Linked DNA regions of Homo sapiens: regions 1, 3 and 4 are each reported to be linked to region 2. Evidence: microRNA targets listed by miRTarBase, many of them from high-throughput screens and not tested one by one. Region 2 holds a microRNA gene; each other region holds the end of a gene's coding sequence.
The links. The annotated mature microRNA hsa-miR-548at-3p reads CAAAACCGCAGUAACUUUUGU and lies in region 2 at 1,337-1,357, shown strand. An mRNA with a match to its seed (bases 2 to 7 or 8) in the 3' UTR can be bound and repressed. Matches are read on the target gene's strand: a 7mer-m8 pairs with bases 2 to 8, a 7mer-A1 pairs with bases 2 to 7 and ends in A, and an 8mer does both.

Region 1 (3,209 bases), not on the chromosome of region 2:
TAGATGGATAGACCAGGCAAGTTGTAGATACAAAGGCCTTCCCTTACTCATTTTCTGTTTCCAATATGTAGATACACTGTGAAATGGAATACTTAGCCCTTGTGATTTGTCCCCTTGAAACTTAATTGCATCCCATTCATGTAGCTCAGTGAGGGGAAACTAAACCAGTATCTTTTTGTTTTATACCTTATGTTGCTGGGAACATAGCTAGTCCTTCCAAACCATCAAATTCCTATGACCAGGTTTGGATTGAATTTATCTCCCAAATGTGCATAATAGCTCCTGTCCAGCTAAAGGGCAGTCAGGGCTTCTTGAAGTGCATTTGTGGGTATTGATAAGACAGTAGTGGTTTGTTTATTTGAAGTAGCAGCAGGATTTCATATGACCAAATCAAAGAATGGCTGTGATACTGGTTTTATAGCAAAAGTATTTGATATGTTTGTTTCTCTTTGAGAAATATTTAACTCTTAAGAATCATGATTTAACTCAGCTGGTTTTTAAGATAATAAAGTACTGTAGATTTTTTTCAGTATAGTTACATCTAAAATAATTACTTAATTTTTTTTCTTTAAGTGTCTAAAAGAAGACGTTCAGCGACAACAAGAAAGAGAAAAGGAACTTCAACATAGATATGCTGATTTGCTGCTGGAGAAAGAGACTTTAAAGTCAAAATTCTGAAGTACAGTTTATATTCTGTCACAGGATTAATTAATTGCCGGTTTTCATACTCTAGAAGGCTGAAACTGATGTTTATCTTCATTGACAAATTTACCCACCATCTGTGGTTTTTCAGTTGTTTATTTTAAATGATATCGATCTTACACATTCTGTGTATAAAGACCTTAACTCCACAGGACGGACATTTTAGAGTTTAAATTATTAAGGCTATCATTCTTTTAGTAATGTCATATTTGCAAACTTTTTTAGTTTTGGCCTTTAATTTAAAAAGCCTAATTTTAAAGTGCTGCCTGTGAGTAACTCTTGAATAAAAACAAAATATAAAAAATTGAGAATGTAGCCTTTTGTTTGAAGTAATTAGATACTTAAGAGTGCCTGCAAACCAGCAGCTATGTACTCTGTGTCATATTTAATGAGTAACTCTTGGGTAATCAAAATGGTGATGCAGTATCTTAAACACTTAAGAGGCAGTTCTTTGTGGCTTTGTTAGTTTCAGCAAAGAGTGGTCATTTCTGTATACACTGACAAGTTAGATTAACTTTTTAGTACCTCAAATTTTTTTTTTGTTAATATCACTTTAAAGAAGGTCTCTTGTCTGCCAGCTACTTAAATAATTTATGGGTCAGGGCTTAAAAGATTTAACTTCCTTGCCCCATTATTTTCTTATAAGTATTTTTTGACAAAGGCATTTTAAAAGTTAATTTCAAGAAGGCCATCAAACTTAAAGCTCTATGTTTAGCCTAAGAAGTCAGTTACATCAGTGTAGAATTTGGGGAATGGATAGAGGTGGAGATATTTAATTTTATATAATTCATATAAATTGATTTAGTTACAGTATCAGTTGGCTACAAGCTCATTATAGACTAGCAATGTTTTGACATCACCAAAAACGTTTGCCCAGTCTTAGAATACTAGGGACTATAGGAAGGGAAGGGATTCATTCATTCATTCGATATTGAATGTATACCCTGTGCCAGAGTCTTAGAGAGAGAACAACAAACAAAATAGGCCTAGTTCTTGTTTAGTAGAGCTTATAGTCTTTTGAGAATGACAGACAATTAAAATCCAAATGTTTATTTGGTGATTCTTATGTGTCAGACACTTAAGTGTTGGGAGATAAGCAGTTATTAAGACAGAGTTCTTGCTCTCATGGAGGTGACATTAGTGGGGAGGAGATACTAAGTATGTCCAGGGAAAGTATCAGACCATGAGTTTTAGATTCTGTGGAGGAAATTAAAGTAGGGTGATTATGAGATAGTGAATGAGTGGCTATTTTAGACTGGACGATCAAAGAGACCTCTTGGAAGGCAGCTATGCTCACCACTATACCACTGCACTGTGCCGCACCGTACCACTATAAGCTGCACGGCCAAAGAGACCTCTTAAAGAAGTAACATTTAAGATAACATGTGATTGACATTTTAGAATGGGCTATCCTTGTGAGATTCAAGGAAAGAACATCCTAGGTGGAGTGAATAGCAAACATAAAGCCTCTTTTGTATGTTTGAGGAACAAAAAGGACAATGCAGCTAGAGTGTCAAGAATGGCATTTCTGTATATAAGACCTCGTTGTATAGAGCCACATAAATAAGGCTATAATAAGGAATTTGGATCTTACTTTAAATATGATAAGAATCGATGAGAAGATCTAAGCAAAGGAATGACATGATCAGATTTGGTTTTAGAAACATCACTATCTCCTTAGTGTGTAAAATCTCACCAGGCTGGAGATAGGGAAGCCAGTCCAATTAGGAGCCTGATGCAGTGATCCAGACAAAAAAATAATAGTGATTCTAACTAGAGTCCAGGTAATAGTAGTGGAGATATGTGGAGAGACATGATAGGTATATACTTAATAGTCTTATCAGACGATAAATTGATATTTTCCTGGTGTGTAGTCACTTAATTCAAATACTTTTTTCAGTAAGTTCTGGGTTTTCTAGGAAAAACTTCAGTATCATCAGTGAATAATGATAGTGTTTCTTCTGATAGTTTTATTTCACTTTTATTGCATGTTTTGTTATCTGAAATGTTTAGGACAATGTTAACAATAATGATGTTAGACATTTTTTTTTCTTATTTTAATGGGAATGTCCATAGTTTTAAGTTTGCTGTTGGGAGTTAGATAGTCTTTATCTGAAAGACAGTGTCTCTCTTTTAGTTTTTAAAGAGTTTGAATTAGAAATGGCTCTGGAACTTTAAACAGTATACCATTTGGGCATCTATTAAAGCATTCATATAATTGTTCTCATTTGATGTTTTGATGAGGTATATTAATAGATTTTCCCACATTAAATCATCTTTGCACTCCTGGAATCAGGTAGATTAATTTTTAAAAGAAATTTTAAAGGATTTATAGTTTATTTGCACTTTTTGTAGACTTGAATTATATGGATTTAAAAGTTGATCTAATATTAATAAAGGCTCACTTTGTTTTCAAAATTTGAAGTAATTCACATACTTATAGCCTAAAAAAATCGGCAGGAATTACAAAATTTCAAAACTGGCACATTGTAAACTGCATATGCATT
Region 2 (3,000 bases):
CTTCATTTCCACTGTTCTTTGTTTGAAATGTTATCAGAGCTGCCAGGCACAGTGCCTCATGCCTGTAATCTCGGATATTCAGGAGGCTGAGGTGGGAGGATTGCTCAAGGCCACAAGTTCAGGACTAGCTTGGGCAAAATAGTGAGATTCCATCTAAAAAAATATTATTTATCAGTAATTTTAAAACAAAATTAACTGGGCATGGTGGCACATACTTGTAGTTCCAACTGTTTGGGAGGCTGAGGTGGGAGGATAACTTGAGTCCAGGGGTTGCAGGCTGCAGTGAGCTGTGATGAAACCACTGCACTCCAGCCTGGGTGGCAGAGAAAGACCCCATCTCTCTTTTAAAAAAAGTTATCAGTAGCTCAAATTTCATTAGCTACTTTGTGAAGATGTGTTGATTCTGCCATGAAAGATTTTCTCTGAGAGTCCTATCTGTCTGGCAGCTGGGGAGTAAGTCACCTTATATTGATCTTAAGATTATGGAAGCCTGGGCACGGTGGCTCACGCCTGTAATGCCAGCACTTTGGGAGGCCGAGGCAGGTGGATCACTTGAGGTCAGAGTCGGAGACCAGCCTGGGCAACATGGTGAAACCCTGTCTCTACTAAAAATACAAAACTTAGCTAGGCATGGTGGTGGGCACCTGTAATCCCAGCTACTCAAGAGGCTGAGGCAGGAGAATCACTTGAACCTGGGAGATGGAGGTTGCAGTGAGCCAAGATTGAGACATTGCTGGCTGACAGAGCAAGACTCCATCTCAAAAAAAAAAAGGGGGGTGGGTATGGAAAAGAATGTAATATTTGTGGAATTGCTATGGTTTAATGTACTTTGTATTTTTCTTTTTTTGGTTTCTTCATAGCTCCGTATACTATTATCACGTTCCCTTTTCTATTTGCTGTGATGTTTGGAGACTTCGGTCATGGCATTTTAATGACCCTTTTTGCTGTGTGGATGGTACTGAGGGAGAGCCGGATCCTTTCCCAGAAGAATGAGAATGAGGTAATGTTTAAGTTACATCTGCATTGAACTGAAATTTTATAATTTCCCAAGCATTCATTATGAAAATTATGATCTGGAAGTCTTTTATCCATGAATTTATCAAAAGGAAGTAGAGAAGTTATGTTCATTTTAACACCAAAGACGACATGTGCAAGCTGGAAGTGGTAGTGTGTGCCTGTAGTCCCAGCTACTTGGAGGCTGAGGCAGGAGAATCACTTGAGCCCAGGAATTCGAGACCAGCATAGGCAACATAGTGAGACCCCATCTCTAAAAAAATAAAAATTATTTAGGTTTGGTGCAAAAGTTATTGCGGTTTTGGCTGCCAAAAGAAATGGCCAAAACCGCAGTAACTTTTGTGCCAACCTAATAAAAAAATAGAGGCCACATCCTGTGAAAGTGACTGTCTCATTAGCATTGTATTTTGGTTTTTACTTCAAGCTCTCTGAATCAGGATGGGGTAAAGTAGTGCTGGAGAAAGGGGCAGGTATATTCTGAATAACATTGTCACAATGTGAGCTGCAGTGAGTACATTCTCATTACTTCTTTCTTCTGGTTCCCAGATGTTTAGCACTGTGTTCAGTGGTCGATACATTATTTTATTGATGGGTGTGTTCTCCATGTACACTGGCCTCATCTACAATGATTGCTTTTCCAAGTCTCTTAATATCTTTGGGTCATCCTGGAGTGTACGGCCGATGTTTACTTATAATTGGACGTAAGTTGCAGAAGAAGCTAAAATTCAAAGCTTATTCCTTTCATGTGCAGCCCTGATTTTTAAGACAAGTGGTAAACTGACACTTCTTTAGGAAGTGGTGACAGTGTCTCCTCATTCATGCTCCACACTGTGAGTTGCTTTGTGATTTGTTCAGCAAGTATCCAGGAACTAAGATTAGAAATGATTTTTTTTTTTTTTGGAAACTAAAACCAGATTCCCCAGTTCCCTACTTGATTGTGTGTTTGTGTGTTTAATTTTTCTTTTTGTCATTTTGGATCCCTCAGTCTCAGCTGCTAGTCTCTCCTCTTTATTTTTCCCCTCCCATTTTATTGAAGAGACAAGATAGCTACAGTAATTTATTTTGGGGTCAGTTTCTGGACCCTTGTTGTTTCCCTCTCTTGTTCAAAAATAATGTGACTTTTTCCCTGTCATGGTAGTGAAGAGACGCTTCGGGGGAACCCTGTTCTACAGCTGAACCCAGCCCTCCCTGGAGTGTTTGGTGGACCATACCCTTTTGGCATTGATCCAGTAAGAGGACTTCCTTCCTATATGCTAACCTCAAATTTTTTAACACTAACCCTGAAGCAAGAGAATTAAAATGAAGATAAATAGTTATGTGGGCTTTCACTGGGCATGGTCGCTCATGCCTGTAATCCCAGCACTTTGGGAGGCCGAGGAGGTGGGATCACCTGAGGTCAGCATGGTGAAACCCTATCTCTACTAAAAATAAAATATTAGCCGGGCGTGGTGGCGCATGCCTGTAGTCCCAGCTACCCGGGAGACTGAGGCAGGAGAATCGCTTGAACCTGGGAGGCAGAGGTTGCAGTGAGCAAGCTGCACTCCAGCCTGTGTGACAGAGCAAGACTCCGTCTCAAAAAAAAAAAAAAAAAAAAGAAAGAAAGAAAGAAACAAACAAAAATAGTTATGTGGGTTTTCGTTGACATATTTTTGGGAAACCTTGATGTATGTATTCAGAGGACTTCTAAGCCATAAGAGACCCAAGTGCCTTGAGGAGCCACATACTTTTCCCTGCGCTGCTTATTTCTGAGGTGGTTAATAATATCGACTCTGGGAAGATTGATTTTTCAAGACTCCTTCCCATTTCTTAATTTATTTCTGCTTACTTAGTTTGGTTTTTTATTTTTAGCAGACATTTTAGCAAAGCAGAAATATATTTTTCCTGTGGATTTTAGACTTGCATTCTTATATTTACGAACTTACAAAAACTTATCCGAGAATTAATTTTTTTTTCAAATGCTTAGGCAAATTAAGTATGATCAAGTCT
Region 3 (3,000 bases), not on the chromosome of region 2:
TTGCTCTGTTGATTGCTCCTAAGTCCTGCAAATTCTCAGGGGATTGAAATAAGAGACTGTGGACAGATCAACATTAGGAAAAAATTCAGTTTGCATGCTTTGGCAATAAGATGACAGGCAAAGCATTCTGATGTGTTACTCAGATTAACACTGTCTTTAATGGGATTTAAAGAGTTTTCTGAATAGGACACTTCTGAAAATGCCTTCTGATTTCTCTCCATTGCTCTCAACAGGTGTGTGATCTGTATGATGGACTTTGTTTATGGGGACCCAATTCGATTTCTGCCGTGCATGCACATCTATCACCTGGACTGTATAGATGACTGGTTGATGAGATCCTTCACGTGCCCCTCCTGCATGGAGCCAGTTGATGCAGCACTGCTTTCATCCTATGAGACTAATTGAGCCAGGGTCTCTTATCTGACTTCAAGTGAACCACCATTTTGGTGGTTTTGATCTTTTGTCACTGAGCCCAAAGAGCCAGGGATTAGGAATTAAGATCGTGCACAAAAGTTTCCTTAAAATTCCTGGATGGCTGCAGATGTTGGGGGAAAAAGTACGTGATATTTTAGAAACTTAGTGGGAAAAGTAGGATGGTATTTTTATGTAAAGCCTTGACCCAATGTTTAAAAATATAATTGTATTTAGATCTTGTTATTGCTCCAGTACATAGGAATTGTGTAAAGTGTTAACAGCAGCTGTATTTGTTTAAATTGTGTGTATTGAAGATTAGGAAAAAGATAGTAGTTATTTTTCCTAAATGAAATAACTTTCTTCTCTTCCCCTTCCCCACCCGAATTCTTTTCTGAAGTTGCTGGCATTTGGGTCAAGGTTTTATTAAAAGCTACATTTTATAACACTGGCACACACAAAAAAGTAGTTTTAAGCTTGTTTGCACAGTTCTTTTTTTCCATTGGAAATGGAATTCATTGCCTTAGGTCTTTTTAAATAGTGTATTATTATCGTTGGGGCTGGCTCTATGCTTGAAAACCAGTTTATTTATAACCTGTTATAAGTGCTATATTCTGTTTGCAGTTAGGAAATGCAGAATTCAAAGTGATCTCCTAGCTTGTAAGCAAACTGAGATGCACTATCCCTTTTCTATAAAAAATAAGTTAATGTGTCAAGAAACCAACTCTATTAAGGTGGGGTTTAATATTACCCTTTCCTATGTGTTTTATCTAATTATTTTGGTTGTTAATATGGTGATAATGGAAAGTCAAGTTAAATTTTAAATATTAAGAATTCTGATTTATTGAGATTGAATTATGCCACCACGTTTATGTAAAAATGAAGGTGGCACCGTGGTGAGACCTAATGAGAAATAGTTACTCAGTTGTAAAAATTTTGATTTATTCTCTTTCTTCTGACCTCCTTGCCTCTTGTCTTGAACCATAGCAAAAGGATACTGCATCTCTCATTACTGTAGTGCTGAGGTTATTGAAGTTATACAAAACACATCTCAGTCTCTGTTTCTTGGAAAGGTATCTATTACATCCTGCTAGCTGACTGACAAAACTAAGCAGGGAGAATAAAGATAATTGTATTTTATGTTTTGCACACAAACGCAGAATTTGTATAACCATATGACTTCATAGTTGTGATCTCAAAAAAGAAGGAATTTCTCCTTTGTTTCTTGCAGTTAATGTAAGAATACTTTAAATCTCTAAGCTTCTGAAGTGTTAGAGGTAGAGATGGTCTAGTAAAGATGTAGTAGTAATGTTTTATCCATTTAGCATGTGTTTATTTTTTCATATGTACTCAAAGGTGACTTATTGGTTCACCTCAGTGATATTACAGCTAAAAAAATCATTCATTAGCAAAAGGAAAAGTGGTCTCAACCTAACATCAGAAGTGTTTCTTATTATTATTTTATATTGAGTTGAATATTGAACTCTAACAGTTTTCTACATACAAAACACAGTGTCATGAAGGTTATTCATAATTGCATTATAGAGGAATGTAGTATGTCATAAGTACTTTGTAAAGATTTGACATTCAACTGTAGTATCCATATGTTGCTTAAATTTCCTTATGAGCCCCATGATGGAAAGACTTAAAGATGAATTTGAGAAAAATTGAAAGAAATTAGATTATCAGGTTCTGTTAAATTGTTACATGTATCTTGCTTAAATTTCTGTTTATTAATTTATATCCACCCAAGTACATAAAGCAAATTTGGAGGAAACAACTGAAGTTGTGCAATATTTTCTGATAATTGCTTTTTTTATTCTTGTGTTTTCTACTTAAACATAATGTCTGTGTCATCAAGTATTATAGTCAGACTTTTCTTTTTTTCTAGATTGTTAAAATTGGCAAATGAACTTTTTTAAAAATCATCTTCCATGTTGCAGTTAGTCTTTCTTTTCATTACAAGTCTTTCACAGAAGTTTGGTGGTAATATTGAAAGAACTAGCATTGGGCAGAATGTGTCTTTTTTAGGCACTTTATATTCTCAACATACAATGTTAAGAACCATCAATTTTGACTTTTACTAAGTTGTTAAATAAAGTTATAATACAGCTGTGAAGGGCTAAAGTTAGAGTTGATTACATAAGTAAGTATTCCCCATATAATCTTTTAAAAAGTTGTGTATGATTATTTTAAAATCTCTCTCTCTATATATACCTGTGGGAAGTATTTTTTATTGTTTGGCATTTAATATCATTTAATCATATACTTAGGCTTGATAGCACCAAAGTTTCTAAAACCAAACAATAGCTATAATCTCTTGATTTAGATATGGGCAAGATATGTCCAAGCTTGGCTGTGGGATTTGAAATTTCTAAAAAGCCTAACCAGGAAGAAACAAAAGAATCTTATCCTTTTGAGTGTAAAACCTAACAAGTTGAAATACTTTCAGATATTTGTAGTTTACCTAACACAAACTTAAAAAATTCTGTGAGTTTCTTGATAGGGAATCTCCTCAGTCGGTACTAGAAGACTCGCCCCCTGCTATTGGTGTTTATCATGTGATATAAAACAGTATGATTTCATGCA
Region 4 (3,197 bases), not on the chromosome of region 2:
ATACAAAAACAAAAAAACAAAACAAAGCAATTCCATTACAATAAAAATGAAAGCAATAACAATTTGGAGATCAAAGCTGCCTAGCTCTTGGCAATAATGAGCTATCTGGATTTCACATCTTCCGCTAGCATGGTTCTGCCCGGCTTTGGTAACACCACATGTGGGTAAAACGGTATAAAGAATTGAAGAACTGTGGGCACAGAATCACCCTTACTGCAGATTCTCATTCTTAATATTTCCCTTTAACAGCATTTTGCTGTTCTCAAGTCTCAGAAACTTTATGTGGTGGGATGGGAGGGAACCACCATAACCGCCTGCCTGCCTTTTTTTTTCTTAACTGTTATTGTTCATAATAGAGATGGTGTCTCACTATGTTACCCAGGTTGGTCTCAAACTCCTGAGCTCAAGCAATCCTCCCACCTTGGCCTCCCAAAGTGCTAGGATTACAGGCGTGAGCCACCGCGCCCGGCCATCCTGCCTTTTTGCCAACCTAAGATGAGTTGCCTCAAGCAGCAATAGGGTCTAAAATCTACAGACAAGCCCAGCAATGAAAATCACGGCTTACTGAAGACAGTAACAGCTTAAACCTGGAAAACCGTAAACAAAACATGGTCACTTTCATCCTTTCGCACCTGTCTGGTGATGGTGGTGGTTTTTCTAAGAGGGTAGAGTATTAGAAAAGTTTTGTGGTCTGGTAAATATTGGGTCCATGGTTACACGGCTGATTTAAATCATATCCCCACTCTGGAATACCCTGATAACTTGAGAGCTAACTGGGTAACCACTAACACCACTGAATTTTCAAAGCTCGGACAGAAAAGTCAGCTGAAGTGGTTAATCATGGTGTTACAACTAGACATTTAGTCCTGCTTCAATTCTTGCAGAGCTGAATCAACTCAAGGAACTAAATAAAAAGAGGAAGGCACCGAGGTAAGGGATTTTTTTTAAATGGGATTTTTTTAAAACCTCTTTGATAGCAGAAAGCTCAGGGCTTTCAGGGTGGGGAATTTCTAGGACCCTGCCGGGCAGTCGTGGGAGGCTTCCTTCTCGGCACTGGGACAGGGACCGGACACCCTCTCCATAACCACCTGGGGGAGTAGTCACACGCTGGTTTTTCCCTAGAGTAGAGAAGAGGCAGGCTATTTTTCCACTTTTTAAGACAAAAACAAAATACAGAATGAAACCACAATCTCTTCTCTAATAGGGAAAATATTTTTTCTTTTTCTTTTTCTTTTTTTGAGACAGGGTCTCACTTGCTCTGTCACCCAGGCTGGAGTGCAGTGGTGCAATCTCGGCTCACTGCAGCCTTGACCTCCCAGGCTCAAGAGATCCTCCCACCTCAGCCCCCCAAGTATCTGGGACTTCAGGCACACTCTACCACACTTGGCTAATTTTTATGCTTTTTGTAGAGATGGGGTTTTATCACATTGCCCAGGCTGATCTCAAACTTCTGGACTCAAGTGATCCTCCTGCCTCGACCTCCCGAAGTGCGTGGGCCACCATGCCTGGCAGGAAAATATTTTTTCTCTTCCTCCTTTTTCACTTGACTTGGTTTTGGGCTAAACAAAGTTATGGTGCTTCCCCCACACCTAAGTAAGTTACTTCTATGCTGACACAGCGAATATTGGATATTCCACCCTCTCAAGAGAAAACAGTCAGCAGTTTTTTAAAAACCAAGTTTAAACACATTCTTGCCAGGCTCATTTTTCTTTTCACATTGTCTTCCTTAATATTATCTTCCCTAGTTACCCAGGTTCAGCTGACAACAAACAAAGCTGCAGTAAAACCGTTTTGATCTCAGAAATGGCAGAAGCCCTCCCTGCTGCTAGCTCTCCTTTGTGGGAGGTGGAGAAGAGAGAACATTGGTTTTCAGAGGCTGTGATCCCCCACTCAGCTCCCACTCTACAGGGGATGGTAGAGACCCTGTGCCCCTCTCCTCTCCTTCCTCTGCTTCTCACCTGAGGTCCTGCAACCCAAAGCCAATGCAGTTGCCTCTGTATTCAGCAAATGCCTAGGATCATCATTCACATTTAGCAAAATGCTAATGAGGAACTAATTATAATTCTGTTGAAAACGACCAGGCCCTGAGATACTGTATTATTCACCCACTCACCCTCAGCTGTTTTTCAACTGTAGGGAAGAAAGGGAGGAGAGAGCTTCTTCCCCCAGCCTTGGCGGTTTAAGTAAAAGCCGTCCCCAGGCCTAGAAAAACAGAATTTGCTAAGGCACTTGGGTTTTAAGAGTTTGAGTTGGAAGATGAAACGATGCAGTGGGCCAGGAGCATGGCGGCTGGAGGAGGCTTTGGCTGGAAATCCATCCCACCTGCCTGAGGGTGCAGCTTGTGCAGAGGTGTTGAGGGGTGGGCTGCCAGCCGCTTCTCCACACCGAGGCCCCCACCAACCTGCCCAGCTTTTGAGTGTCCGTGTGAGTGTCCAAAGAGTCTTGATATGGTTCTCTTCACAGTGGCCCAAGTTCACTCTAGCCCCTTTAAGCTGGGCATTTGGAAAGGGAGGTTTGAAACCTCAACCAGCTGAACAGCTGGAGCAGGCTGATTTTCCCCTGGCGTAGAACCTTCCGCAAGGCTCTTCCGTGAAGCCAAAGGCCGCACACCCCTGAGATAAGCTGGCATGGCAGTGAGAAGCATCTTTTGCTGAGCCCGTTTGTGTTTTATCATCCACAGGGTCCAGGCTGCTGGTGCCACCCAGCCAGCTATCTGGGGAAGAAGTAGTCTGTATTGCTGATGTCATAAGGGCTCCGTGGGTCCCTGGCATCTGGTCGGTTGTGGCTCGAGGTATTGTCAGACCCCAGGCTGCTGGGGGACACCGGTGGGGAGATGAGAGGAACAAGCACTGGGGTGGGTCGAGGCCTCTCCGGGACCAGCTGCCCCAAAGAGTACGGCGGATGCATGCTTGTCTTGCCTTCCTTCAGAGCCCGCAGCTTCCACGTCTTCTTGAACCTTCACACAAACACACAAAGACAAACCACACAGATTTTTAGCTCCCCCTGTGACAAGCCCACAGTGGAAAACACCAACAGCTGGCTGCCCTGGTGGCCTGGCGCGCCCAGGTTTCGGCTCAAAGGAGCAATAACTATCAGCTGTCTTTTTGTTTTTTGTTCATTTGTTTGTTTTGAGACAGGATCTTGCTCTGTTACCCAGGCTGGAGTGCTATGGCGTGATCTCAGCTCACAGCAGCCTC

Region 1: the mRNA of CDC5L is a reported target of hsa-miR-548at-3p. Seed matches in the 3' UTR shown: 7mer-m8 at 717-723 and 7mer-A1 at 2,356-2,362.
Region 3: miRTarBase lists RNF11 as a target of hsa-miR-548at-3p. Seed matches in the 3' UTR shown: 7mer-A1 at 831-837.
Region 4: miRTarBase lists IL6R as a target of hsa-miR-548at-3p. Seed matches in the 3' UTR shown: 8mer at 1,782-1,789, 7mer-A1 at 961-967 and 7mer-m8 at 592-598.

Annotation. Positions count from the first base shown.
Region 1 is chr6:44,446,034-44,449,242 of GRCh38, forward strand. It overlaps CDC5L (cell division cycle 5 like), which reads left to right. Exons shown (of 16, transcript NM_001253.4): 16 at 574-3,209. The coding sequence ends at 678. Among named protein-coding and RNA genes, the nearest start is that of MIR4642, 12 kb to the left of the region's middle.
Region 2 is chr17:42,493,474-42,496,473 of GRCh38, forward strand. MIR548AT (microRNA 548at) reads left to right here and starts at 1,300; the gene lies at 1,300-1,357. ATP6V0A1 (ATPase H+ transporting V0 subunit a1) reads left to right here. Exons shown (of 22, transcript NM_001130021.3): 12 at 861-1,000; 13 at 1,561-1,715; 14 at 2,153-2,243.
Region 3 is chr1:51,270,918-51,273,917 of GRCh38, forward strand. RNF11 (ring finger protein 11) reads left to right here. Exons shown (of 3, transcript NM_014372.5): 3 at 234-2,530. The coding sequence ends at 405. Among named protein-coding and RNA genes, the nearest start is that of RNF11, 36 kb to the left of the region's middle.
Region 4 is chr1:154,464,893-154,468,089 of GRCh38, reverse strand. IL6R (interleukin 6 receptor) reads right to left here. Exons shown (of 10, transcript NM_000565.4): 10 at 1-2,956. The coding sequence ends at 2,710. Among named protein-coding and RNA genes, the nearest start is that of TDRD10, 36 kb to the left of the region's middle. RefSeq lists an enhancer at 2,624-3,125.